4 linked regions of the Homo sapiens genome follow. The main gene of each other region encodes a partner of the protein of the gene in region 3 in a complex. Each region holds a gene or a part of one and is shown on either strand. Other genes may lie near its edges.

Evidence for each region.
Region 1: CC2D2A (region 3) and TMEM17 share a complex: the UniProt entries of both Homo sapiens proteins name them as parts of the tectonic-like complex.
Region 2: CC2D2A (region 3) and CEP290 share a complex: the UniProt entries of both Homo sapiens proteins name them as parts of the tectonic-like complex.
Region 4: CC2D2A (region 3) and TMEM107 share a complex: the UniProt entries of both Homo sapiens proteins name them as parts of the tectonic-like complex.

The regions. Positions count from the first base shown.
Region 1 is NC_000002.12:62,503,188-62,510,099, forward strand, and holds the start of TMEM17 (transmembrane protein 17), read right to left. Parts: upstream 3,009-6,912; 5' UTR 2,943-3,008; coding exon 2,843-2,942; intron 1-2,842. UniProt on the Homo sapiens protein: Transmembrane component of the tectonic-like complex, a complex localized at the transition zone of primary cilia and acting as a barrier that prevents diffusion of transmembrane proteins between the cilia and plasma membranes.
Region 2 is NC_000012.12:88,076,065-88,083,088, forward strand, and holds part of CEP290 (centrosomal protein of 290 kDa), read right to left. Parts: coding exon 6,967-7,024; intron 6,313-6,966; exon of another isoform or gene 6,249-6,312; intron 4,332-6,248; coding exon 4,118-4,331; intron 3,166-4,117; coding exon 3,028-3,165; intron 1,855-3,027; coding exon 1,633-1,854; intron 1,281-1,632; coding exon 1,158-1,280; intron 1-1,157. UniProt on the Homo sapiens protein: Involved in early and late steps in cilia formation. Its association with CCP110 is required for inhibition of primary cilia formation by CCP110.
Region 3 is NC_000004.12:15,465,425-15,472,884, reverse strand, and holds the start of CC2D2A (coiled-coil and C2 domain-containing protein 2A), read right to left. Parts: upstream 3,004-7,460; 5' UTR 2,828-3,003; intron 1-2,827. UniProt on the Homo sapiens protein: Component of the tectonic-like complex, a complex localized at the transition zone of primary cilia and acting as a barrier that prevents diffusion of transmembrane proteins between the cilia and plasma membranes.
Region 4 is NC_000017.11:8,173,381-8,181,300, forward strand, and holds the start of TMEM107 (transmembrane protein 107), read right to left. Parts: upstream 3,001-7,920; 5' UTR 2,907-3,000; coding exon 2,820-2,906; intron 2,647-2,819; coding exon 2,579-2,646; intron 2,496-2,578; coding exon of another isoform or gene 2,478-2,495; coding exon 2,377-2,477; intron 1,495-2,376; exon of another isoform or gene 1,396-1,494; intron 1,237-1,395; coding exon 1,140-1,236; intron 893-1,139; coding exon 823-892; 3' UTR 1-822. UniProt on the Homo sapiens protein: Plays a role in cilia formation and embryonic patterning. Requires for normal Sonic hedgehog (Shh) signaling in the neural tube and acts in combination with GLI2 and GLI3 to pattern ventral and intermediate neuronal cell types.

The sequences.
Region 1 (6,912 bases), on a different chromosome or scaffold from region 3:
CACAGATAAACTAATCTTATACAAAAACGGATTACCAAGGTTATAATTAGACACATCTCTCTTTTCAGCATACCCTAATCTTAGCCATTCTTTAAAGTCCAATTCAGTGTCATCTTTTCCATCAATACTTCCTTCATCAGTTCCCCCACCTCAGCAGAAATACCTTTCCCCTTTAGGTACTTACCACTCTAAACTGTCAATAAGAAGTGCTAGCAAAGAACCACACTCCCCTCCCCAAAAAACAGTCTGGTGTACTGAACAGATCATGGGCTTCAGAGTTCAAGCAAATCCGAGCTCCCCAAACCTCTGTGACCCTGGATGTCAGACTTGACATGAATTATTTAAACTCTTTGAGCTTCTATTTCTTCATCTGTAAAATAGTGAAATTAAAACTTCCTCACAGGCTGTTTGTGAGAATTAGAGCCAATATAAATTATTTCATCCTAGCACTGTGCCTGGCACACTTAGTAGGCACTCAACAAATATTAGTCCTCTTTCCTTCTTCTCTTCTACTTATCTACAGGCTCATTGCAAGCACACACCATGTCCTACCCTAATTTGAGACCCTCATAGAATCTAGCATCTTGCTTTCCACGCAGTGAATATCAAATACACATAAGAATGAATTAATGAAAGTATACTGTCATAAGGACATTACTAGCATAGCCATTTGTGATACATGAGTTCCATTTACCTAAGGTTGATTCCATAACACTTTCTGCTTTTATGTAAGAGAGCAGGGTCCTAGATTAAGAATTTGATTTTTAAAATTGAGCCCTACAAAATACATCCTAAATTTGACTAAATTCTTAAGAGCAGACACATATATTGAAATCAGTTGCTGTACACGTAAGATTTTAAAGGCTCTAAAATAAATGTCTTAAAAACATTATTTTCTCCTTTTCTCCATAGCTGAGTGTTTTTATCTGTCACTTAATTATTTTAAAATATAAGAAATAGTCATGGTCTCTCACAGCAAAATAGTTTCTTTTAGCTCCAAGAATATGCCTGATTATTATGATCTACTTTTGCTTGCAACTGTTTATTAAATTACCACTGATAAAGGAATGAATTCTTAAAATCTGTTAAATCTGAAGACAACTCACCAGCCTAGGATCTTTTCGATAGCAACAGTACAAAGCTGCGGACATGGTAATGACATAAACTTGTTATTACAGTACAAATAATCAAACCTACTTCCAATCCACAAAGAAGAAAATTTGGGAAAGAATAATAAATTGGGCAAGCTGAACATTTCAGTACCTTTGAGAAGAAACTGTAGTCAAATTTTGCAAAGAATGGTTTTCATGTTAGAAGTATTGTGTGTTAACATCTTAAAGGTTATGCTATGTCCATATTTCAGCAGATCAAACTTATAATCATGGAAATGAAAATCAAATTAATATGTAAATGAACCTTAAAAGCGTAAGACATAAACTTACTAAATTTTGCAAAAGTTCAAGTTGAGTTCTGTAAATGGAATTTAAATTAAAACATACAATATAAATCAGGGATAGGTAAACAACTGGCCAGCTGCCTGTTTTTGTACAGTCAATGAGCTAAAAATGTTTTTTCACGTTTAAATGGTTAAAAAAGTAATATTTTTTCCACACGTGAAATCCATATGAAATACAAATTTCAGTGTCCATAAAGTTTTATTGGAACACAGCCCTGCCTATTCAATAACTATTGTCAATGGCTGCCGTGGAGACCATATGGCCTACAAAGTCTAAAATATTTACTATCTGGTCCTTTTCAGAAAACGTCTTTTTACCTTGTATTATCAGACGTTAGTGCTCATTAAGCCTCATCCTTGGAACCAGAAACGTGAAAACCTATTTTTTTCACATTTTTCTCTGTACATCCTAAATCATAAAGGCCTACATTTGGGAAATAGGCAAGTGATCAAGGTGACAAAATGCAGCTTTGGGAACTGCCTTTACTTTTCTCTGTCCCTTTTAAAAATTCTCTAAAACCAAGCAGAGGAAAAGATTGATATTTCCCAGCAGAGTTGAATGATGAAAACCACATGGGTTTGGTTGACAGTGTGTTGTCTACCATCATGATGTAGGAGGAGGAAACTGTTCTGGAGGAAACTGTGTTATCACTTGACATCAAGTTAAAGGACGCAGAAGCATCATGGTATTTTGTTACCTTATGATAAGAGTTACATATAGGGGAGGAGGAGAAGGCAGGGAAGGGGTGAGTTTTGTTGAACGCCCGGCTAGTATGGCACATGCCAGTGGGAGTGGATGGTGGTTTGAAAGGACTCATTAACTTTTTTTTTTAATGTCTTCTACGAGAAAATGGCCTTGCTTAGGAACATACTTGTTCTGCTAGGAAAAGGGAAAAGGCAAATTTGTTCCCTGGGGTGGGGGTGGGGACGGGGGAGGTGGGATTGCTTGGGCTATTCCTCGTCATCCTGGACAGAAAAGCCGGGGCGGGCGCCGCAGAGGCAAAACAACTTGGGCCTTCGCTCTCGCGGCGCGCGGGGGACCAGCCTGTGCAGCAAGGGCGGCTTTTATCTTTTTATTTTTGGGGTTTCTCCGGGACAATGATGGGCCTTGCGCGGCACAGAGATCGGCCCCACGTCAGCTGCCGCGCTTGCAACAAGCTGGCCAGGGAGCACCACGCGGAGACCAGGCCCGGCCGGGGGCGGGAGGCCGCCAGCGCCTCAGCTCCCTGTCCGGCCCGGCCCCTCCTCCAAGGCGCTCTCCCGCACTGCGGAGAACTGGCTGAAGGCGACATCGCCATTTTAGGTACGGGCAAATTCTGGACGCTCCAAAATCCACGCCAAGCCCTCGGCAGGCCACACCCCCTGCACCGGGCCTCGGTCACTCACCCGGACCCTCATTGGACTCTGGACCGGTCCGATTGGAATCACTGAACACGGCCCGGCTGAAGTTTCCCAGCCGCTGGCGCACCGGATCCGGCAGCTCCATGCCTGGGCCTCAGTATCCCTCACCCCCTCAGACACGGGCTAGTCTGCGGGCGCTCCGAGGCTCCGTGGTTCCCACGGCAACCGGGCGGCGCGAGGCCGGCGGGACCCGGGAGCGCGCGGGGCTGCCCGGCTGGGCTGGGTCTCGTCCGGAGCCCGCGCAACCTGGAAGGGACCGGCGCGCTCAGAGCGCGTTCCAGGCCCAGGGAGCCGCGCGCCTCGGCCGTGTACAAAACGGCAGATCCCTTAGTTCTGCTTTGAGCTCGACCATCCTAAAAACAAACCTATACTAAGAAATGAGCTGGGGTTGGACTGCGATACAAGGAGCCCTCACATTTGCCAGTGGAACTGTAAATCGGTACAACCTTTCTGGAGAGAAATAGAGAACGAATGCAGAGCTTAAAGAATGTCTAGAGGTGTAGGGGTGTGTGTGAGAGAGAGAGACATCATGTGACTGATTATTTTTTAATAAGAAAACAGCAATGGGCAACTGATTAAATGTACTGGAGCACATACATTCAATGGAGTATGTTTCAGCTGCTTATAAAATGCTTGCAAAGGATATTGAATGGTATAGTTTAACTTTATGTAAAAATACAGCAGAAATAAAACTAAATGAGAATGAACCTAATTTAGCAAAATTTATGTGTATGAGTGGAGGGGAGGAGAGAGCGTGTGCACACTGGCTTGAAAAAAAGAACTGGAAAAAAGTCCAAAATGTTAACAGTCGTTTTCACTGGATAGTGGGATTGTAGGTGATTCAAAAATTTTTAAACGTCTTATTTTCTAGCTTTCTCTCAAGATATATTACTTAAAAAAAACTAAGTGTAATACACATACAGAAAAATTGTACACCTTTTGTAAGTAATATATATTACTTAAGAAATAAGTGTAATATATATACATAGACTGAAATCTGTATGTGTAATCAGCACCCTGTTCAAGAAACTTTACAATATTCCCAGAAACTCCCCCTTCCTATTTCCTTTCAGTCACTAAACCCACTCCTCACTCATAACTGACCTTTCCTGAATTCTAACAGCAAAGGAGAGTTTTGCCTTTTTTTTTTTAAATCAGAACATTTATTGTGTGACTAATCTAAAATTTTTTTTTTTTTTTTTTTTTTTAGACAGAATCTTGCTCTGTCACCCAGGCTGGAGTGCAATGGCACAATCTCGGCTCACTGCAACCTCCGCCTCCTGGGTTCAAGTGATTCTCCTGCCTCAGCCTACCGAGTGGCTGGGATTACAGGTGCCCGCCACCACACTCGGCTAATTATTGTATTTTTAGTAGAGACAGGGTTTCGCCATGTTGGCCAGGCTGGTCTCGAACTCCTGACCTCAAGTGATCCACCCGCCTTGGCCTCCCAAAGTGCTGGGATTACAGGTGTGAGCCACCGTACCTGGCCTGAAATTCTTAAGATGAACTGGATGCTGCAGCAGCTGTCCTCTTGGGTTTAGGTGGCATTCCTTTAAAAAATCCATGCCTTAACCTGCTGTACACAATTTTTAAGTGCCTCATTCGACCAGTCCCACTGGTATATTTTTTAGCCTCGGCACTCCAATTATACTTTATCTTGGCTTGGGAGGGTAGCCGCGTTTGCCACAGGCGGACTTTTGAAGGAGTTAGAGTCACAGGGCAGCACTAGCTGTGCATCTTATCGCACCACTTTCTAGATGATGACACTCCCTTTGTCATCTTGCTTCTGTTTTGCATATTTATATAAAAGCAATCATACTGTAAGTACTTTTTTAAAAAACTGGCTTTGTCTTCAACATTACTTTCATGAAATTCCTTCATGTCATTGAGTGTAGATTCTTTTGCCTTGCTCTTTGTGATCATACCACAATAAGCTTACTCATTCTACTGTTGATGAGTGTCTGTATTTTCTAGTTTGGAGCTGTTGTGTATAGTGCTGCTTTGGGGAAAAGATGCCTCTTGGTGAACATATGCATGCATTTTTGTTGAGTGTATATCGAGAGTGGAATTGCCGTGTCATAGGATACGAAAGACCCAGCTTTAGTAGAGGCTGCCTACAGTTTTCCAAAGTGATCAAACCAATTTCTGCTGCCTCCAGCAATGTGTGAATATTTCCATTACTCCATATACTTCACCAACACTTGTTATTTCTTATCCTTTCCTTTTAGCCCTTCTGATGGGTGTGTGGTAAAAGTATTATTTTTACAATCAAAAGGAAAATTACACATTTATATAAATGCAAGAAGAAGATATGGGTGGAAATAAGTTCATGACTAGAATTTTAAAATAATTACACAAACGTTTATTGCATTCCTACTGCTTATTTGGATATCGTGCTAGGCTAATTAGGGATATGGTCCCTCCTCATCAAGAAGCACAGCTCAGTGAAAGAGAGACATGGAAACAAGTAAGTGCAAACACTGTTATTAGACGTGCTCTATTAAAGGACCACGTCTTTTAATTATTAAAGAAGCAATTAATTCGGGTTGAGGATGTCAGGGAAAAGCTGGTTAACTTCTGCTTCATTTCAAGATGGAGTTCAGACCTGAGAATCTCCAAAAAGGCTTCTAGGACCTTCCTGAAATAGCTTAGGTGCTCTCTTCTGTGTTTCCCAAAGCATCTTCCTCTTGTTTCTTTGGTCACAGTGCTGGTCACTCTATACTAAAATTGTCTGTTTATGTGTCTGTGTCTCTTGCTAGTCCTCAAGCTCTTAGAGGTCAAGAATGGACTTTCATCTTTATATCCCCAACACTAGCACAGTGTGGTACCTGGCCATGAGTAGGAGCTGGATGACTGTTGAGTGAGTAAAAGGAAGAAAAAGCCTAATGACCACTCTCTTGTCTTCCCCTTCTAGTTCAAGGACTTAGCTAGCCCTTTAAAAGGTTCACTTTGTAAAATGGTGAATTGGTGTATTAAAACATAGTGAATCATAACAATTTAAAAAACCTTAGCAACAGAGAATCACTTTTCATTTATCAAATGAACCGAGATTTTTTATAAACGGAACAGTGAAGCAGGAGGCCTCAGGCTCAGCTGTTGAATTATAATTTGGCCAACCGCATTGAGACAAGTAATCGGCAATGTATAGAAATAGCCTTTAAAACGTTCCTGCCTCCTTTAACACGATAAAATCTTAAGGCGTGCTCTATTAAAGGAAAATAATCATAGAAACAAAGTTTTATACACCAAATGCTTCTCCAACATTATTGATAATTGTTTAGAAAAGAGGGGAATGGGCATTTGAAGTGCCCAACCACAGGGCCTCATTAAGCAGATTACGATATTTATGGCAAGGTGTTGGGCTGCAGTAGAAAGAATGTCCTTGGAAGCTGAGAGGGCAGGGTTCAAATACCCTAAAATTCTCGATGTACCACTTAACAGCTGTGTGACTGATTTCAGATACTCGTTTTGTAAAGTAAAAATAATGATATCTTACTGTTGTGGTTGATGTGATATTATATCATTAAGGCTCTCTATACATGATAGCTACCATTTACACATCAATTAAAATGAAGTTTATGAAGAAACAACACCTAGAGTGGAGTCAAATAATGCTGGTATTTAATTTTGTAAATTCAACTGGACCTGCTAGGTAATACCTCTGTTGCTTTCCTAATAAAGACAGTGGAGGCAGTTAAGCATTAAAGCACTCCATTATGTTAACCAAAAACCTATGTGAATTCTTATCAAAAACCTAAGTGAATTATTTTAAAGATATTTTCCCCTGGCATTGAAAAAAGATGCAAGATACCTTCTTCAGATTGTAATTATGTTATCAAAATCCTGGAGGAAAAAAAGTGATAGAATTATGGGTATTTTTCCTTCTAATTTTATTATTCAAATTTCCTATATGAGCGTACATTTTCTAGTTAGAAAAAAATCTTGTTAAAAATAAATTGAGAGGAAGAGGCAATGATGATGCAAAAACATTAGAGAAGATAATTTGAGAGGAAAAAAAATGTGGTTTGGAATGAGTCCTGCCATTATTGATGTAT
Region 2 (7,024 bases), on a different chromosome or scaffold from region 3:
GAAACACACCAGTTAGGAACAAACATACCAGTTTCTAACCTATCCCCATTTAGGGATAAGATCAGGCCTATCCCCAATTAGGGAGTTAGAAAGATGGAAATCCAAAAGATTAAGGACACTTTGATCTTACAGTTTTCACCAGCAAAGCTTCTGACAGCAAGCATGTTGTGACTCCACGCAAATAGTGTCAATAAATTACACTGACATTAATGAATTTTCATAGAAAATAATTTTGGGAGCATACTCTATTAAGAAATTTGAATTCCATTACCTATTTTCTATTCAATGCCTTTAAAGACAGAATTTTCTTTTCCATTTTCATGTGATTGAAATTATTTTATAGACATTAAATATTTTCTGGGTAAATTTTATAATAAAAATTTTCCTAACCATAGCTCCTCCATACTGATTTTCTTCAATGGCAAATATTACTGCTAACATCAACATTTCCCAGTTCACTTTCGATATTTTGAATGTTACCAACAAGTTATCTCCAATTTATTGTCCATAACAAATTTAATTACACGCATTTTAGCCAATTTTAGTTTTTTTTGGGGTTATTTCAATCAGTAATTTTTATTACAAAACAGTTTACTATGAACTATAAAATTTTAAGCAATTTCTCCCACAGAATTAATCTATGAGCAGATTGGTTACTGATTATTACTGCAAATACTGAAGATATTCCAAATAACTTTGCTATCTGAAATAACAGCCTAGTCTCCTGAAGGATTAAAAAGGACCTATTTGGGTCAAAGTGGGGTATCTTAAAATGTCTATCTTTCTGTCCCAAAAGTCAAAAGCACCAACCTGTGTAAATGATTACTTTGGAGAGAAATGATACACAGTTGAATATGTTAAGGTGTGAAGGAACTTCAGAGGTACTCTAATGTCAGAAAGATGAATGAAATTGATGTAGTAATTTCCAAATAAGAGTTACATTATAGGTATCTCCTCAAGTAGACTCTAAATTCCTACAGAACAGAAACTTAGACTTTTCTACGTTATTCAATACTGCTTATAGTCCTCAAAATTAATACAGAATTAATACAGCCAGGTCATCAAATTAAGGCAGTATATTAACTGTTAATCAGCTATGTATTTAACTTACTCTGTCACTACCTTAAGCATATAAGTCAGTATGTTTCTTCACATACCTTTTCTTTCATAGGTTTTAGGTCTACTTCCTCCACCTTTCCCTCTAATTGGTTCTCTAGTTTTTTAACTTTCCTTTGGAGTTCTTCAATTAGACTTTGTTTATTATCTGTCAGGGGTTTGCCCTAAAAAATAAAATGTAACTTTATATTTTTACAAATAAATGTAAAACAAAATAGACAGTAAATATTTCAATTATATAATAGCAACTTTCTGAAGCTATCACTGACCATACTTTCTAAATGACACTTAATACATAAGATAATCTGGTAGCTGCTTCTGCATTTTAATACAACATACTAATATGCTACTCTAGAACTATAAACACAATAGAAGTCACAAAAGAAATTAATTACATTAATCAAAGTGATTTGAAAGTCAGTTTTAACAAATACCATAGATAAAATGATAAAGTAGAAATAAACTACTACCTCTATATTGTAAATCAGACATTATCAGAGTTAAATATAAAATTACCTGTAATCCACTGGTTAGTCTTTTAATTTGCCTTTTCAGTTCATCATTCTCTTGATCAATTTCCTCTTTCTCTCTAAGTATTTTATTATAGGCTTTTTGTTTCTTTTGCAGTTCATTATTTAAGTCATTCAAATTATCAGTTAGTGAGTTTTCTCTGTTTTTACTTGTTTTAAGTGCTTCTTTCAATTTTAAAAGATTTTCATTTAAATCTTCAACTTGTGTCTAATAAGAGAAAAAGAAAGGTATTATTCATGACTCTTCAAGAAGTATCAATGATAAAAGGAACATAAAACAGAAAATATACCATTATAAGAAAAATTCAGTCTGAATTTTTAAGTACACAAGAGAAAAAAAATAACCACAAACTACATATATTTTTCCATATTCATGTCAAGTCTACCTTGAGGAAAAAAGTCGACTTTGAGAAAAAAAAAAAAAACTAGTGTAAAGCAATTCATCTTCAACAAACACCCACAAACAAAATTTTATCAAATATGCACGTTTCATTTTGGCTGAATTAATTAAACAAACAAGTATATAACAATATATATGACAACGTTTTAAACACTATGAAGCATAAGAGTAGTACAGAACAAATCTCTGACTTGAAGTAATTTCTAACCTAGTTTACAAAGATAAGATATAAAAGGGTAACTTACAATACTAGACAATATGTATGCCACTAGAAAGGAGTTCCTAGCTGTCCTATGGTGAGAATGATGGGGACACACTGTATGTTTCCATCTATAACATATTCTGGAAAAGGTGAAACTATGGAGACAGTAAAAAGATCACTGGTTGCCAGGGGTTTGGTGAGGTGCAGAGGAAGGAATGAAGAAGAGAGGCACAGAAGATTTTTAGGGCAGTGAAAATACCCTGTATAATACTATAATGATGGATACATATCATTATACATTTGTCTAAACACACAGAGTGTAAAATACCAAGAGCTAAAATAGAGGTAAACTTGGACTTTGGGTGATTATGATGTATCAATATAGGTTCATCAATTTTAACAAATGTACCACTTTCAGGGTAGGAGATATACAGGAAATCTCTGTACCTTCCTCTCAATTTTGCTGTGAACCTAAAATTGCTCTAAAAAAATAATAAAGTCTTAAAAAAAATCCTAAGTAAAATATTTCTTAAATTTAATTTCATTAGAAACAGTAGTTCATAATGGCCTATCCTTTCCTAATCCCCAAGATGATAATCAGTAAATGAGTATCATAAAGAGACTTATTGTTGAAAAATGCATGTGTGTGTCTATGTCTAGCCACCAACAGTGCATTATAAATTCCCTATTCATCAACAAAATTACTATATATCATAGTGAATTCTCTTCCAATAGGAATTATCAGAAATTTTGTTACATTAACACGTGTTGATGTTCACCTTTAGCTCTCTAGTATGTCGATCAACGATTTGTTGAACATTGAGATGGGCCTCTTTTTGAGAAGTTGCAGAAATAATACGTTCTTCAGCAGCTGCTGTCATTTCTGCCCGGAGTTCTAAAAGTGCCCGACTAAGTGCCTAAAAATTAACCAAAAAAAAAATGTAATTTTTAAAGGAAAACTGACATTTTATATGAATATATGATATAAAAAATAAACAAGCTTTATTACTTCCTACTATTTTTCTAAAATATTATGAGTTTAATGGAACATATTTCACAAATTAACAACTCAACTTTTTCAAATAAATCTTTTGTAATTACACTCAATTCTTTCCACATTGAATGTGAAAGTTCAAAATCTTAATAATGATTTTGAGAACTCAGCATTAAATCAAGCTATTACAAAAAACAGGTATGTTTTGTTTTCAAACATCCAATTTTAGATATTTATATTACTCACTTACTACATCCTTCCATATGAAATTAATTGAATTTAGGTAGACAACAAAAGGACTAGGAAAGGCTTAAAGTTTACCCATAAATTTCATAGCTAGCACAGAAAAACACCAGCATCTTCTAAAACAATTTAAATAGATCAAATCTGAGATAAACTAAAAAAAACCCTAATAAATCAGAATACACTGACCAACTCCTTCTCACAAAAACATCTCTATGACCCCCTTTTTTCATCCCTTTTTGTCATTATCATACTTCCCTCAATCCCTCAAATTGTTCAAAATTGTTCATTTGTTAAAAATAGCCTCAGTAGCATAAAATTCCAGTAGAAAAAAAGAAAATACAATGTAATATATATTATATTTTTGTAATGTACATTAAGATTTTTCCTAACTTCATATAGATAATTCACAAATCAGATTGACGAAAACATAAAAAGATAAATTGGACTATATCTGCCCACAAAAACAGCATTGTCTAAAATACCTTGTTTAACAGCATAAGATAAAGCTCATACTTTTTATTACAACACGGAGATTTATACTACCATCTTTTATAAATTTACAAATCTTCTCTAAAAGCAATCTACCACATATTTTTCCTAAATGTTGATAATTTTCTGTTGTTACTTACTTTCTGTTGTTTCTCCTTCAAGGCTAATTGGCTCTTTAGCCGTTCTACTAGATTTCTCATTGTAGTTGTTGGAGCTCTTGAATTTGCTTCTTTTTGAGCCTGAAGTTCAGATTTTAAACACTGTGACTCCTTTTGTGACTGGTCCAGAAGATACTTTAAATCCTCTACTTCCGCTTTTACTTTTTTCACTTCATCTTCATGGTTTTCTTGAAGCCTGATGTAAATAAACATATGTGTGTGTGTGTTTTTTAATTTTTAATTTTTTTGAGACCCAGTCTCACTCTGTCACCCAGGCTGGAGTGCAGCAGCGCAATCTCGGCTGACTGCAACCTCTGCCTCCCAGATTCAAGTGATTTTTTTGCCTCAACTTCCTGAGTAGCTGGGACTACGGGCGTGCACCATCAGGCCCAGCTAATTTTTGTATTTTTAGTAGAGATGGGGTTTCACCATGTTGGCCAGGCCAGTTTGAACGCATGACCTCAGGTGATAAGCCCGCTTTGGCATCCCAAATTGCTGGGATTACAGGTGTGAGCCACCACACCTGGCCAAACATATGTAATTAATAGAGTGGTTGCTGCAATTCATACCTTGATTAATACAAATTTCATATAGAGCAAATGTTCAGTCCTAAGTATCCTTACAATCTAAATCTTGATGCAGGCATCCAAATCCAAAGAAGAATAATTCTTTATTTCATTTAACTACTCTTAGACTTAACAACACATTTTTCTTCTAGTTTCTAATATTTTTGGCAACAATCTTATCAAGTTATTTTGTGACTCTAGTCAAATATACAGAGAATGAACAAAAAGGCATTTTAAATATTATGGCTCTTGTAAAATGTGATTGCTTCCTCTATATGATAGTTTCCTAACCATACTACTAGTAACATTTTTGACTGGATAATTCTTTGTTGGTGGTGGGGCTGCCTTGTGCATGATAGGATGTTTAGCAGCATCTTTTGATTCTACCCACTGGATACCAGTAGCACCCCCGAGCCATGACAATCAAAAATGTCTCCAGACATCGCCAAATGTCCCCAAGAGGGACAATGGTGAAAAACTGATCCTCTATATTTGAGAAATACTGCCCTATATTGACATATTGAAAAGACTAATATAAATTTTCACAGAAATCACATGTATTATTAATTTGTTTATGGTTCAAATTCACTAGCATTATATCTATAACTATATATATGGAAGTGGATACTATCAAAAGATTTAGTTAATTCAATTAATCTTATTGCTTATTCAGCATTAAGTCTGTTAAACTGAATTAATATATTGTTGTGCATATGGACACTGCATCCATACTGAGATTCTGACCAATAAGAGGGAGATAGTGTTAAGACATGAACAAATGTTACTCTTTGAGGCTTCTTGCTTTTGGCAAAACTTAAGTCTAACTTTAAAGAGTCATCATCAAATTGTGAAAATATCAGGATTTACTTAAGAAATCACACAGATCCATAATCTCCTAATACATATCAAAATATGCACACAGAGAACACAAGTATAATTTTGGACTAAAATGACGTAAGGTACACAACAATAACTTCAAGTATTTCCTGTGGCAAAAAAATGTATTATATAAGGTATTTCAAAAGATTATGATTTTCTACACCCACAAATTAGATGCAAAAGCACAAGTAATTTTATACTCCAAAACATGACAGAAATTTACTAGACCAAAAATAACATCTCTTGTACAAAATTTAATAGAGTGAGGAAAAGAGACTGAAAATACACATATGCTGTTGCCAATTTTCTTTCTTTTAGAGAGTAATTTCTTAACAGTGGCAGCTCCTTAGCAAAGCAAAAATAGTGTTAATTCTGTCAGAGGCATTTGAATAAGTGAGTAAAGAATCAAAGACTCTAGCAGGGGCTTGAGAGCTGAAATGGAATTATAAGTCAAGCAGTTCAATTTTCTCATGTTTTTTCAGATAATAAAATTTAGGCCCATAGAGATAATATTATAATGATTAGAAACTACCTAACTATAAACCTATTTTGAGTTTAAAATCTACGTTCTGATAAAGTGGTTGAACAATGTTTAGAATCTCTATTATATGACAGACACTCTTATAAGTGTGTAATCAAAAGTTTTCTATCTGTATGTTATTTTACAGTTTTCAAATTACTTTCATACACGGTATAATTTGACCTTCATATAACCACCCTGAAAGGGCCAGGGTAAGTATTATTATTTCCATTTTAAAGATGATGAGGCTGGGTGCAATGGCTCAGGCCTGTAATCCCAGCACTTTGGGAGGCCGAAGTGGGCGGATCACTTGAGCTCACGAGTTCAAGACCAGCCTGGGCAACATGGAGAAACCTTGTCTCTACAAAAATACAAAAAAACTACCCAGGTGTGGTGGCACCTGCCTGTAGTGCCAGCTACTCTGCAGGCTGAGGTGGGAAGATGGTTTGAGCCTGGAAGGTCAAGGTTGCAGTGAGCTGAGATTATGTCACTGCACTCCAGCCTAGGAAATAGAGCCAGACCTTGTCTCAAAAATAAAAATAAATAAATAAGATGAAACTGAGGCTCAAAGAAGGTAAAAATGAGATTCTGGAAAAGAATTTGTATTGGCTTTTGAGTCAGACTGACTAGTTTCAAATTATGGCTTTCCCATCTACCCCCAGACATGCTATTAAGCATTCCTGAGGCCATATCCTCTCTTTAAAATGGGGAAAATGATAACATATGTAACCAGCAGTCCTGAGGATAAAAATGAGACAATATACTTAAAAGTCTTAGAACAGTGCCTGGCATAGCAAACACTTATGTTTATCTTCATTATATCACTTATCATTTGCCTATTTTTACAATACATTTCGAAGACTTACTGTAATTTGATATTTTCAAATTCTTTTACTTTTAATTCAGTGATTTCTCTTTGTCTCT
Region 3 (7,460 bases):
GGGAATTAGCATGTTAAAGGGAAATAAAGCATCTGAAATTCTATTGTCTTCTCTACAAACCTCATCACAGGGTACAAAAAATAGAGGAAGGAAAATGTAAAAGCAGCTAAGAAAATAGAGAGGCAAGGAGATAACCTAGAGTGAATGAGGGGGCAGATAATAAAGATGAAATGCAAAAGTACATGAGAGCTCTCTAATGAACAACTCTGGTCATTGCAAACTGAAAAAAAAAAAAAACCTGTGAAACATTTTAGTAACTAAAAAAAGTTCTCTATAAGTTAATAAATGCTTTATATGGAAGAAAAAAATAGAAGTAGAAAATGAAAAATGTAATGGGATTTTCTTTTTTCCTCATTCTTTCCTGATCATTTCCTTTAAATGAGTTTCTAAGGAAATCAAATGACACCGAAATTTATTTTTTATATGAACACTGTTGCTAAGAAAAGATAAATCAATACTGCCTGGTTTTAATATGCAGTTTGCCATCATCTTATGCACTGGTACTTGTTAATATATTCCTACTGGCAACATCAAAATAGCTATGATTTACTGCACACTTATTTTGTGCTAACTATAGACATGTTCTCTTTAGTCCTCACAATAACATGTCTGGCTTAGTAGTATGTGCCCCAATTTGCGTATGAGTAAACTGAGGCTCTGACAATTTACATGATTTTTCCAAAGTTATAATTATTAAATGTCACATTCAGAACTTGATCCCAAGACTCTGTGATTCCTGAGTCCTCCCTCACTCCACTCTACCCCTCCATCTCACCATTTATTCTTGCTTTTGCAATGGCATCAATAATTATTCTGTGCTTTCCAGAATAGTGGGCTATTCTGGAAATATTTACAGTTGAAAGCTGTGAAGCATTGCACTGGTGAGAAAAGGCTTAGGCTACATTAAGCCAATGATTTATTTTACTCAGTGCAGAAAACCAGATATATTTTTTCAAGGAAAGTACTGACACCTTCATCTGAATAAATGGACTATTCCTAAGAGTCATCAGTGGGTCAGAGCCATACCTGGAGGTTGAGATACAACGCATCTCAACTCCATATTGGTTGCTTAAAAAATCATACAATATATATGCCCTACTCCAGGATGGCAAAAACATGGGTTTATAGGAAGAGTGGTCCACATATTTCTTTGCCAAGGAATATGTGGACCTGAGTTCCAACTTCAGCTTTATTTATTAGCTGTGTGATCTTGGAACAATGCCCTCCCTTCTCTGAGACACGTTTTTTTTTTTTTTGTCTGCAACATTGCAATCATACTTCCTACCTTGAAGGATGATTAATTTATAAGGGCTAAATGATGAAATGTGTGTAGTAAAATGCCTAGCACAGGCTGGGCTCTCAATATTGGTAGGTTTTGTTACTAAGAAAAAGTGATTGTGGGGAGGGAAAGTGGAAAAAAGGAATGAGGAGGGAAAAGAGCTTGGGGGATAGAAGAGGAGTCATGAGAAAGACCTTAGGTGATGTTCAAGCCCACCCACCTTCAGCTCCAATCTTCAACCCCCAGCTACCATAACTCATGTTTCATGTCTCCCTCCCTTCAGCCAGGCCCAGGGCAGTTGCCTTGCTGTTTCCATTTATGGTGCTTCTGAAACCTCCTGCACTTCTACCCATGAGTATTTTCTTCCTCACACCCTGAGAACATTTTTCTGTTCCCTCCTGGAGCTTGGACACCTGGGGAGGTGCCACATACATTGTTTTGGAATACATTATCTTATTCTACAAGTTATTCCAGCTGCAGTTTCCCTTAGCATAAGGTTAGTGACCAATAGCTTTATAGAATCATTTAATCAGCTCGATATAATGTACACTGGCCTTGAAGAGTACACATGAGTACCATATTTGAGCTGTGTTACGTGATATATGACCAGTGCATTTACATGATGTGCTAAGTACTGGAAGCCCCTCCCTGGATGTCATCCCACTGTCCTCTCAGTGTTTTTATAAATCTCTTATGGCACTTAGCTCATTGTACTCTTATCATGTGTTTATAGGTCTGTTTTCCCAGCAAATTCTGAGCTTCTGACCTAGTCTAATTTATGTTTGCACACTCTAAACTTAAATTCATTGCCTGGTGCATTGTTGATGCTCCATAAATGTTTGAATGAATGACTCTATAAGTGAGCTCTAGGATATATATATATATATATATATATATATATATATATATATATATAGAGAGAGAGAGAGAGAGAGAGAGAGAGAGAGAGAGAGAGATTTCATGCTGGTGCTGAATTTATTTGCAGAAAAGGTTATATGAAAATGCAGTAGCAAACATATTTCTTATTTGACTTTATTAGCTTTTCATACCACCTCTTTGCAATGAAGGGAAACAAACAATCAGCTTAAGTTGTAGCCAGTACATTTTCTTGAAGTCTTTGGAAAGCACAGCAACTCTTAGCACTGTGGTTAGTAGCCCTTTCTCTGTCTCATACCAAGAAAAGTGTATTTTGCAGTAATTAGTGCTTCTCCCCTTAAGCCAGTTTGAACTAAAAGGCCCATAAATGCAACACGCAGCTAATGTTTCACAGAGCTTTGGTCAGAGAGCATTTTCACTCAGGACTTGTGATGAACTGGACTTACATTTCCTGCAAACCAGATACCAGATAGCAGCTCAAATCAAAGCTGCCAAGTAATGGTCTATGTTCCCATTTCAGAAAGTAAAAACATAAATAACGATGAGAGCCCCTAAATTTACAATTCATTAAATCCAGTCTCACGGTATCCTGGAGAGGCTGAACTTCAAGCCGGGTAACTGAAAACAGGAAATCACTGTTGCAGCCTAAAGTCCGGTTAGGGACTGATTTACCTTAAGAAACTTTACAAAAGGCACTTTGCAGATTCTGCATTCTAGGATGGAAGTGGAGAGAGACGGTGCTGTTGAATCTTTTAAAAGGGTCCGGAGGGAAAGGCTGAGTGTTGGAGATGCCCCTGGGCTCCTCCCTGGGAAGCTGCAGCCATGTCTTGGAGCAAAAACACCAGCTTAGCAACCCGTTCCTAAGGAAGGTCACTCGGTAGCTTTTTTTTTTTTCCTTTAAAGTGACAGGCTACTTCCAGTAGTGGAGTACAAGCATGCTGGGTAAGCAGAGACGCACAGCCTGCAGTAGAAGGACGGAGAGAAATCAACATGAGCAGCACTGGAAATTAGGTCAAGCCTTAAGAGCTGCCCCTCCCTCATGTCATCCGGTCGTCTTGCATTTCCAATGAAGAACAGGCTCAGAGGTGGGGGGATTTAGAATCTTAAAAGGTCGTCATTACATGGTGAAGCTGTCTAACGTGGCAGCAGCAAAAGCTCTGTGGAGGTGCTGCAGAGTACCAACAAATGTTGCACTTGAGTGTTTTCCAGTTAAAAGTGGAAGGTTGAACGCACAAGTTTAATCTTTGCCTATTCTCTGAATCCCACTGCAATTCCTGAAAACGGATATAAATGTTATGGCTCAAAAAAGTTGGAAAAAAAAAAAGAGGGAGAGGTAGGAGGCAAAGTAGCTGGAAGAGTAATAGAATGAATGGAGCCAAGGAAACACACTCCAATAGACTAGTGTGTATGTGCACATGTGTTTGTGTGTATTTGTGTCTGTGTGTATGGTGTGTGTATGTTTGTGTGTATGTGTATTGACTGTATCTTCTTATTTTCTGTATTCTTGATGCTCTGGCATTTGGAGCCTTGATCCTGGAGAAACTGATTCTCCTATGTTAGCTAATTTCTAGAGATAGCAAATGATTCCCCTGAAATATGCAAAGTCTCCTTTGATATACAAGCCAACCAATCCAGAGCCCACACAACCATCTCCATTATCAAACTCTCACACACTAAGCCAATATTCCTCCTGTCCTAAGTCACCCCAGGTCCAGATACCAGACCACTATAGCCCAGAGAACACCACGATTATTCAAGCTATCCACTCCTAAATTTATGCAGCACCCTACCCTGCTTCACCTATTCCTTCCTGGGAAAACCCTAGTAAAGGCTCTGTGCTGTACTCTGCTGTCTCCGTTCTGCCTTCTGACCAACATTGGTTCTTCCCTATGTGGTCCTGTGTGGCATGCCATGTTCTATGATTTGAATGTGTCTTCCCAAAAGCATGTATTGGAAACTTAATCCCTAACACAATGGTGTCGGGAGGTGGCACCTAATGAGAGGCAATTAGGCTGTAGGGCTCTGCCCTCATAAATGCATTAATGCCATTATTGCAGGAGTGGATTCCTTATAAAAGAATGAATTTGGCCTCGTTTTCTCTCTTTCTCTTTCTTGCTCTCATGTTTTCTTGCCTTGCACCATAGGATGGTGCAGCAAGAAGACCCTTGCAGGATGCCAGCCCCTTGATCTTGGACTTCCCAGCCACCAGAACTGTGAAAAATAAATTTCTGTTCATTATAAATTGCCCAGTCTGTGTATTCTGTTACAACAACAGAAAACGAACCAAGACACCATGCTTCTTGTTTCTAGGGATCTGTTAAGTATAAACTTCTTCTTTTGTGCCAATCATGTTTGTGTCTGTGTGTCTTACCATACCTAATTAAAACAAATCCAGAGTACATTTTTTGACACAGCCTGCATGCATGTGTATGTGTCAATGTATTTGTGTTTGTGTCTCTGTACGTGTATGTATGTGTGTGTGTGTCTGTGTATGATGGGGTGTGCACGTAGGCATGAATATGAGGAAATGAGCTGATTTACTGTGCCAGGATTTGGGGCAGCAGTGTTATAGCTGAATTGTGTTCTCTCTCATCCCCAAAGATGCTGAAGTCCTAACCTCAGTATCTCAGAATGGGACCTTATTTGGAGATAGGGTATTTACAGAGGTAATCACATTAAAATGAAGTCATTAGAGTGAGATCTAATCCAAGATGATTGCGTCCTTACAAAAGGGGAAATTTGGATTCAGAGACAGACAAAATAGAAGAAAGGCAACGTGAAGACATGGGGAGAGCACCATCTCCAAGCCAGGGAACACTCAAGGCTATCAGCAGCCAGGAGAGAGGCCTGGAACAGACTGTCTCTTGAAGCTTCACAAAGAATCAACCCTGCCACACCTTGATTTCAAATTTCTAGTCTCCTGAATTGTTAGAAAATTTCTGCTGTTTAAGCCACTCAGTGTGTGGTACTTTGTTACAACAGCATCAGGAAACTAATACAACCATAGACTAAGGAAGGTGGGGAGAGATACGGGGCTAAAAATGCAGGAAGATTTGAAAGTCTGTATATTAAGGGATTGATCCTCAGGATCCTTTTTCTTGGCAGCCTGAAAAATGCCCATTCCTCAGGCATAATTTCCGTCCTCCACATCTGCCTCATCTGCTGCTGCCCAAAGGAGACTGGCGGTTTCTTTTCTAGGGAAGTTAAACCAGAGACTCTCTGGTCTCAAGTTCCCAGGTACTGCAGCAAGTGAGTGTGTCTCAGGATTGAAAACTGTATATGAAATGAAGATGTTGCAGGGCCCTTTCTGAACCTTTCTCAAGAACTTAGACAATCAAGAACATGCCATTGGCTCCCCCATCCTACCTCTACCTGCACAAAACTGGAGAAAGTAGAAAATTATTTTCTGGAAAAACTGAATGATTATAAAGCACAGACCCTACATACTGACATTTCTGGATCCTCCAATGACAAAGCTAGCATATTGCCCTTACAGAAAAGCATTACAAAAAACATTAAAGGATCTCAGGCTAGGAAATTTAATGCTTGTAGTTATAAAAAGAGAGAACCATGAAAATGGAAAAGTATAATTTACCAAAGGAGTAATACAAGAACAACTGTATGAAATAATGTATTTTCCAATTGAAGGGGACAATCTACTATCTCGTGCTGGTAAAAGAAGACAATAAGAAAACTTGTCTGTCTTGGCTTGTATTCTGCATGTGGTGAGAAAAATATGAAGAATTTACAACCATTGGTTTGCACCATGCAGTTTGTCTTATTTATGCTCCTTATATATTTTAGGAGGCCCCTAAGTGATAACTTTTAAAAAGTGGCCTCTGTCTACTGTATCCCCGTGGGGTGCCAGGCAGAAGTTATTACAAAACTTTTCTGGAGGAACACACCTTCAATTGGACAATTCAGGATGTCCACAAATAAACACAGAGGAAGATGAGCTCACAACCCAAAATTAGACAACAGAAGAGAAACACTCAAGAGTCCACAGACAAACCAGAGGACACTATTAGATACTCAAGAGTTTCTTGCAATACAATAATCAGATGGAGAGTGGAAAAATAACAATGACCAAATATTCAAGAAGATACAAGGAGGATTTGAAAATATGAAAGAAGAGTGAGACACTATCAAAAAGATCAGACAAATTCAAAAAGTAACCAGATAGAACTTTTAGAAATAAATAATACAGTCACAAATTTAGATAAAAGTCAAAGAATGTGCTAAACTGTAGATGAGAGAGCTGAAGAGATGCAAAAGATAGGTTTAAAAAATTGAAATGTGGCACAGAGATATTGAAAATAGGAAAGAGTAGGTAAAAGATACAGGGAGAAATTGATGAGGTCCACCATATCCAGTACAGTACCAGAAGGAGAGGAGAGAGAAAGAAGTTGAATGCTCTGTCTTACAACTGAGGGATCTCGGTCAACTTTCTTAACCTTTCTAGGTTTCAGTTTCCTTCTCTGTAGGAAACTGAGGTTTAATAATAGTAACTATTCCAGAGAGAGTTGTTAGGAAATTTGTTAAGTTAATAATTGTGAAGCACTTAGGACAGTCCTGGCACATAGTAAATGTTGCAAGGTTTATTAAGTGAAGAAAAATATGAATGTTTACCGTAAGAGATTATCTACTTGAAATGGTCAGCTGCCATGAGAGGAAGGACTTGTTCACCACTCTTTTGCTAATTAACCGTCTGATTATTACCTCCCTGATATTTTAAAAGTCTCATGGTCTGCCAACAGAGCTAGCTGGGCACGTCCTCTTTGATCTTTAATACTGAACTAATTCATAAGAATCATACAACTTCTTAAGTTCCAAAAATATTAAAAAGTATCATTGCAAAACACCATTACTTGCAAAAGTTCTTATGTAAGCAAAATAAATGAATCTAGCAAATTTATTTTAAATCATAACACAAAAATCTCATTCTTTTGGTTAAGTGTTCCTAGTTGGCTAAAGAGTTTTTCATCAAGAATAAATGTTGAATCACATTATCACAAGCTTTTTTCTACATCTTTTGAGATAATTAAATATTATTTTTATTCTTTCATCTATTAGTGTAGAGAATTGCATTATCAGGCATTTTAATGTCAAATTGTGCTTGCATTCCTGGGATACACTCAATTTTGTCAAGATACTTCAAAAATTAATATTGGATTTAATTACCACTTTCTAGAAATTTTTGCATTTATGTTCTTAGCTGAGATCAGCCTTGTATTGTTCTTGTCTCATTTTAGGATAAAGGATAGTCTAACCTCAAAAAAAAAAAAAAAAGCAGACTAATATTTCT
Region 4 (7,920 bases), on a different chromosome or scaffold from region 3:
TCAGAACTTCATAGCTATGTTTGTGGATATCTGCTAATCAGCATAACACAAATGTAAGTGATCGTCAGAAAGAATCAGACAGGAGCAATCAGGGTGTTGCAAGTCCTGATTACGCAGAGACGTTAATCACGTTTCATGCATCTCCAATCATCATGTTCTAATCTGCCCTCCGGAGGAGGAACAGGTAAGGATTATCCCACCTGACGATACAGACAAACAGCCGACATTCTGCACTCAGTGAAAAAGATTCCGTTACAAGCTAGGGTGAGTTCATAACGCGCTGGTATGAGCAATCCTATTATTTAGCGTCCTTCCAGTTGTTTTGCCATATTAGCTCGCACATTTTTTTAAATTTTTTTTTCATTCGGCTGCCGAAAAGGAATAAATTACTTCTTCCCAGAATGCTCCGATCAGTTACGTGCCGGACGTTCTAACTGTACGCACTTTCTATTTACATATCTCCGCCCACTCCCTTCCGCCAGGCACCTACCGTAGTAACCAAAATAGAAGCGATACCAAGTATCTTACGGTCTGCAGGACTAGAAAACAGCGTTGTTTTTTTTTTATTCAGTAGTTCAGCCATCTCAATTGTCCCCTAAAACTGTATATAAGTCTTAATGTTACTACAAAACATATTTTATTACAAAGCACTAAATACAATGCGGATAATCCCAGACTCAAGACGTAATTATTCCAACACATATCCTCCAGCAGAAGCAGTTTCCGAGGGGAAAACCGAAGCCTATGCCTTCCTTCTTCCAGGAATACGAAGCGGCCCTTGCCCCTGTAGGCTTCGTCCTTAGGTTCCCGTCATGAAGGTAATCAGAAGGGTTTCTTTTTCAGCCCAAAGACGGTGACGAATAAAGCCATTTCAGTGACAGCTGGAAGGGCACTACCAAGGCAAGTGGTAGATTCAGAAACCCTTTCAGTATAAATACCCAAATCTCCAAACCAGAGACCCCACCTCTGAAAGTGTAGGGCAGGTGGCATGGGGGGTAGGGGATGAAACTTTAAAAGCCTACAGGATGTTGAGTGGATCTGGTATCTCACACATGGAGGAAAGGGCTGGGTAGGGGAAAAACCTTCAGGTTTAGGGCCAACCTTCCTCCCTCATCCCCAAATATTGGATGCTACCACACCTGCAGAAGACAAAAATGTACCAATACGTAGTGCACTCCCAACGCTCGAATATGAAGAAGGACAGGGCCACGGATGCACTACAGTGAGCCCCAATGGCTTGGGAAGGCACGAGATTAAGGAAAGTCTTTGGATCGACAGACAGTGATGGGTCAGAAAAGGCCAGTGGTGGGGCTGGCATCTGCATTCAGGTTCATCCCTTGCTCCCTCACCATGTTTCAAGGGCTAGAGTCAGCAGCTCTGACTTCTGAATTTTAGGACAGTCATGTGAGGAGAGACCAGAAGTGACTGCACAGATCGGACCTCAGGCTACCCTACCCCTTATCTGTGGGCCAGCCTGGATCCTTCAGATGAGAGGTAAGAGTAGGCTCTCCTTCTGCTATGCCACAAAGGAGTGCTGACAGCGACTTAATATGCGCTGGAATCAGCCTCCAGTGTCCTGGTCCTCCTGGTCCACAATTCTCTGACCCATGTGCCTCATCTCCTTTGCCTCTTCTGAGTTCCCAGTGCTCGCTTCCGTTGCCTCTTCTGAGTTCCCATTGTGCTTTATATCTTTTGTTTGTTTTTTGACAGAGTCTTGCTCTGTTGCCCTGGCTGGAGTGCAGTGGCACGATCTCAGCTCACTGCAACCTCTGCCTCCCGGGTTCAAGCAATTCTCCTTCCTCAGTCTCCTGAGTAGCTGGGATTACAGGAGTGCGCCGCCACGCCCGACTAATTTTTGTATTTTTAGTAGAGACGGGGGTTTCACCATGTTGGTCAGGCCGGTCTCGAACTCCTGACCTCAGGTGGTCCACCTGCCTCGGCCTCCCAAAGTGCTGGGATTACATGCGTGAGCCATCGCGCCCTGCCTGTGCTTTCTATCTTCACACACTTCTATAGCACAGTGCTTATCACACTGAATTACAGATTTGTATCTACCTCCTCCTCATTGTAAAAAGAAACGGTGGGGTTTTTATTATTCCTATTATTTTTGTAGACTTGGGTTCTCACTATGTTGCCTCCTGCCTGCGCCTCCCACAGTGCTGGGATTACAGACGTGAGCCAACATGCCTGGCCAAAAACTGTATTTTACTCTCATTTTGGGATTTTAAGTGCCTAGTAAACAGCAGGATTTAGCACATCGTTGAAGATCTTTGAACTGGAAGGATTGGCTACAGCAGACACTATTGTGTCAGGTGGCTGAAGGGAGTCCTGATAGAAGTGGGTCGTGTGGGAAAGGTGGGCAGGCAGAAAGGATACAGATGAGGCTCTGGGTGCTGTTGAACATGGAGACTCCTGAGAGGAAACCGGCCAGCTCCACTGCAAAGAGGCCCAGGGTGACAGAGAGCGCGGCCACCAGCCTGCAGAGAGGAAGTGGACTGGCCCAGGCCTTTGGACTTATTCTAAGACCCCTCCACTCCCACCACCTCTTCGTTCTGGCCACCCCGTCCCAAGAGCTCACTGAATGTCCTGCTTGTCATACTCCTCGGGGGTGAACGTGAGAGGCAGGCAGGCCTGTATGTTGCTGTCCTGGGAGCAGGGCACAGGAAGAGAAGTGAAAAAGGGGCAGGCTGCAGGGCAGGCCTGGGGGCGGCGGGAAACAAGAAAACCCAAGAGGGTAAGACACTGGGAGGGGGCAGGGTAGGACTAGGACCACTCAGAGATGGGAATGGGGACGGATTGAGTGCAGCCGTGGGTCTTACCCGGGACCAGAATAAGGTGATGACGACCACCAGATGCGCCAGGAGCGTCAGGAAGCGAGAGGGCACAAGCCCTGAGACCCGGCCCATGGCCCTCGGGGACAAGGGCGGCGGTCTCTGAGGCTGGAAGTTCAGAGACAGCGACTCCTGAAGTCTCCCCGCAAGCCGACAAATCTAGACGAACGCCTCCTTCCCGCCCGCTCAGGCACCGCCCAGTTGCCTTGGTAACCGTGTACGCGGGCTCGGCGCCGCGTTCTCGGAAATCCTCGCGAGCAGTACATTCTCCGGCTGCTGCGGGTCTCTCAGGGCCAGCGAAGGTCAGGGGTACCCGAAGGCGCTTCTAACCTAACGGCTGGGTACCCGCGCGCAGCCAGGCCCTTTGTTCCTCAGAGGGTGCGAGGTGGCACAGCCCCGCAGCGCCCGATCTGCCCACGCAGGGCGGATGAACGGAAACCCACCCTGGCCTAGCTTGGGGACACCAATGCTTCTGCTGTTGCCCACGCCGGGAGCGGCCCCCAGCCCCAGCTACGCTGCCCAGTTGTGGATCACTTGAGACCGCTGCCACCACCACGCCGGGCTGAGTTCCCCGCCATGCCGAAGACTCAGACCCGCTCCCCTTCCCCTCCTCTGCATGCCTTTAGCTTCCCACCAAGCTGGGCCTGAGAAACAAGGGACCCGAACCTGGAGAGGCCGGTGTTCCTGGACTGCTCTGCAGTCACAGATTGTCACGGAGCCCCTGGTTGTCTGAGGACCCCAGGCCTGAACCTTCCTTGAGGAAGACTGATTTCTTTCAGACTACTTTGCTCAGTTTGGTGAGGGATTTGCAGAGTGCAAAAAATGGCCAGCGTCCTTAAACTAGCATGGGGATAAGAGCAGAGCAAGGTGGCTGGAAAGAGTGGGAGTGGACGAAGGGAATGGGACAGTCCCTGCGTCTCTGGGAGGCTTGGAGCCGGCTGGAAGGGAAACTCAACTCAGATTTCTTTGTCCCTTGGAGGTGCTGGGCCTCCGACATTGCCCAGCTACAGTCCAAGAAGCTCTTATCATCGGCGACCTCATGACCTTTGGGCCTCAGCGCAGGTCCCTGCAGATCTGAAAGTTCTTTAATTGCTGAGTCAAGTCCCATCCTCAAGGAACCTCCCGGCCCATCTCCCAGGAGAACAATCTCTTCCTACTCCCCACTCCCCATCTCAGTGCTTTTAGCCAGCCTAAACTACAAGCCCAAGAGGCATTTCTCATTCCTTCAACAAATATTTGTATATGTTTATTGATTACCTAGTAAGGGTATTCTAGTCAGGGAGATCAACAACAGACATGCAAACAAATAAATCCGTAAGATAATAGGCGCTACAAACAGGGAAAAGCGGGCTGTGCACTGTGGCTCACACCTGTAATCCCAGCGCTTTAGGAGGCCTAGGAGGGCGGATCACCTGAGGTCAGGAGCTCGAGACCAGACTGACCAACATGCTGAAACCCTGTCTCCACTAAAAATACAAAATTAGCCGGGCGTGGTGGCGCGTGCCTGTAATCCCAGCTATTCGGGAGGCTGAGGCATGGGAATCGCTTGAACCCAGGAGGTGGAGGTTGCAGTGAGCCGAGATCGCGCCATTGCACTCCAGCCTCTGCAACAAGAGCGCAACTCCGTCTCCAAAAAAAAAAGAAACGCTAGAATTATAATTCTATAAAAATAGGGCATTTATAATTCTATTAAAATAGAGCATTTATTTTGTTTTATTTTATTTATTTACTTTTTCTGAGACGGAGTCTCGCTCTGTCTCCCAGGCTGGAGTGCAGTGGCGCAATTTCGGCTCACTGCAAGCTCGGCCTCCCGGGTTCACGCCATTCTCCCGTCTCAGCCTCCTGAGTAGCTGGGACTACAGGCGCTCGCCACCATGCCCGGCTAATTTTTTGTGTTTTTAGGAGAGACGGAGTTTCACTGTGTTAGCCAGGATGGTCTCGATCTCCTGCCCTCGTGATCCGCCAGCCTCGGCCTTGCAAAGTGCTGGGATTACAGGCATGAGCCACCGCGCCCAGCCGGACATTTAACCTTAAACTTTATTTTAGAAACTTTGGCCAAAAATTGGCCGGGAGCGGTGGCTCAGGCATGTAATCCCAGCACTTTGGGAGACCGAGGCAGGGAGATCACCTGAGGTCAGGAGTTTCAGACCGGCCTGGCCAACATGGTGAAACCTCATCTCTACTGAAAAAAAAAAAAAAAAAAAAGTTAAAAAGTTAGCCAGGTGTGGTGGCGCCCGCCTCTAATCCCAGCTATTCCAGAGGCTGAGGGAGGAGAAGTGCTTGAACCCGGGAGGCAGAGGTTGCAGTGATCCAAGATCGTGCCACTGCACTCCCGCCTGGGAAACAGACCAAGACTTCGTCTCAAAAAAAAAGAAAAGAAATAAAAAGAAAATGCACTCTGGGACCAGAAGCAAAAGCCCATGCCTGTAATCCCAGCACTTTGGGAGGCCAAGGCGAAGTATTCCTTGAACCCAAGACTTTGAAGCCAGTCTGAGCAACATAGTGAGACACCTCTCTCTGTTAAAACAATAATAAAGGCCGGGAATGGTGGCTTACGCTTGTAATCCCAGAACTTTGGGAGGCCGAAGCGGGCGGATCCCCTGAGGTCAGGAGTTTGAGACCAGCCTGACAAACATGATGAAACCCCGTCTCTATTTAAAAATACAAAAAAAAAAAAAAAAAAAAAAATTAGCCGGGCATGGTGGCACACACCTGTATTCCCAGCTACTCGGGAGGCTGGGGCAGGAGAATCGCTTGAACCCGGGAGGCGGATGTTACAATGAGCCGAGATTGCGCCACTGCACTCCAGCCTGGACAACAGAGCAAGACTCCAACTCAAAAAAAAAAAAAAAAAAAATATATATATATATATATATATATACACACACACACACATATATACATACATAGATATCTTTTTAATAAAGTTTTAGGCCGGGCGCGGTGGCTCACGCCTGTAATCCCAGCACTTTGGGAAGCCGAGGCGGGTGGATCATCTGAGGTCAGGAGTTCAAGGCCAGCCTGGCCAACATGGAGAAACCCCGTCTCTACTAAAAATACAAAAATTAGCCAGGCATCGTGGCACGCTCCTGTAGTCCCAGCTACTCGGGAGGCTGAGGCAGGAGAATCTCTTGAACCCACGAGGTGGAGATTGCAGTGAGCTGAGATCACACCACTGCACTCCACTCTGGGTGACAGAATGAGATTCCGTCTTAAAAAAAAAGTTTTAAACAATAAACATTAATGTTTTCGGAGTCTTATATTGTATTATTAAGACAAGAAATTGGAAAAAAAATGGAATGATTTATAGGATTGAGGGTCCCTAAAATGTTGAACTCCTATATATTGAAACTATGTAATGACATTTTCATATAAACCATCTCTTTAAAAGACAGCACAGCCTTTTCTTCATATTGGAGACAATGTAATCACCAAAACTTGCTTTTATCCCCATGAAATAAAAGCTTGTGATTTTCTAAACTTTACTGAGGAGTTACTATTATTATTATTATTATTTTTTTAAAGGAGGTTCAACAAAGTCTCTCTTTGTTTTTTTTAGGCAGGGTCTTGCTCTGTCACTCAGGATGGAGTGCAGGGGTATGATCATGACTACAGTGACCCTCGACCTCCCTGGCTCAGGTGATCCTGCTGTCTCAGCCTCCGGAATAGCTGGGACTACAGACGCACGCCACCATGCCCAGCTAATTTTTGTATTTTTAATAGAGACCGCGTTTCACCGTGTTGGCCAGGATGGTCTCCATCTCTTGACCTCGTGATCTGCCCGCCTCAGTCTCCCGGCACCCAAAGTGTTGGGATTACAGGCGTGAGCCACCGTACCCGGCACCCCCCTCCCTTTTTTTTTTTTTTTTTTTTTTTTGAGACAGAGTTTTCACCTTTGTCGCCCAGGCTGGAGTGCAATGGCATAATCTCGGCTCACTGCAACTGCCGCCTTGTGGGTTGGGGTGATGCTCCTGCCTCAGCCTCCCTAGTAGCTGAGATTACAGGTACCCGCGACCATGCCCAGCTAATTTTTGTATTTTTAGTAGAGACGGGGTTTCACCATGTTGGCCCGGCTGTTCTCGAACTTCTGACTCCTGACTTCAGGTGATCCACCCGCCTCGGCCTCCCAAAGCGCTGGGATTACAGGCGTGAGCCGCCACGCCCGGCCAGTTCTTTTCTTAACTGTTGGACCCCTTCAAAGTTCTGAAGATAGTTTCAAACCTCCCTGCTCTCAGGATGGACAAGGAAACCCATTAAGTTTTCTCCTTTGAAATGACCCCCATTGCATTTGATTCCTAAAATGAGTGATAGTAATGACACCTAATTTACAATGAGAGATGAGCTTCCTGTATTCTCCAATGCAGAAATTACAGCATAGCAAGCATTCAAACGTTCTTAGGAGACAAGATAAAAAGACTGAAGGTTCAGCCTGGGCGACATGGCAAAACCCCGTCTCTACAAAACAATACAAAAAATTAGCCAAACATAGTGGTGCACACCTGTAGTTCCAGCTGCTTGGGAGGCTGAGGTGGGAGGTTCACCTGCACCCAGGAAGTGGAGGCTGCAGTGAGCCATGATCACACCACTGCACTGCAGCCTGAGTGCCAGGAGTGAGACCTGTCTCAAAAAAAAAAAAAAAAAAAAAAAAAGACTGACGAACTCTCCATGCTTTTCTTCCCTCTGTCTGCAACTTACATGCATTTTCGACCTAGACCTTCAGAGGTGAGCTCCCCCAGTGAGAGATTCATCAAATATAACTGTTCACAGATGAAAGAAGTTGTCATAGGCCAAAAGTGAGGAAAATCCAGGACCTGCTTTTGCAAGGTTTTCCAAGGTCTCTGAATAGAAGGAAGTGAAAGAGTCAGCTACATGAACATCTAGGGAAAGAGCATTCCAGACAGAGGACATAGCAAGTGCAAAGATGGTGAGAACAAGCCAAGTGTGTTTGTTGAACAGTAAGGAAGGCAGCATTTCAGAAACCTAGTGATGGAAGGGGAAGAAAAGTTCAGTGTGAGGTTCGTTAGGTAAACAGGGGCCAGATGAAGCCAGGCCTTGCAGCTACAGGGAGGGACATGGTCAGGTTGGTGTT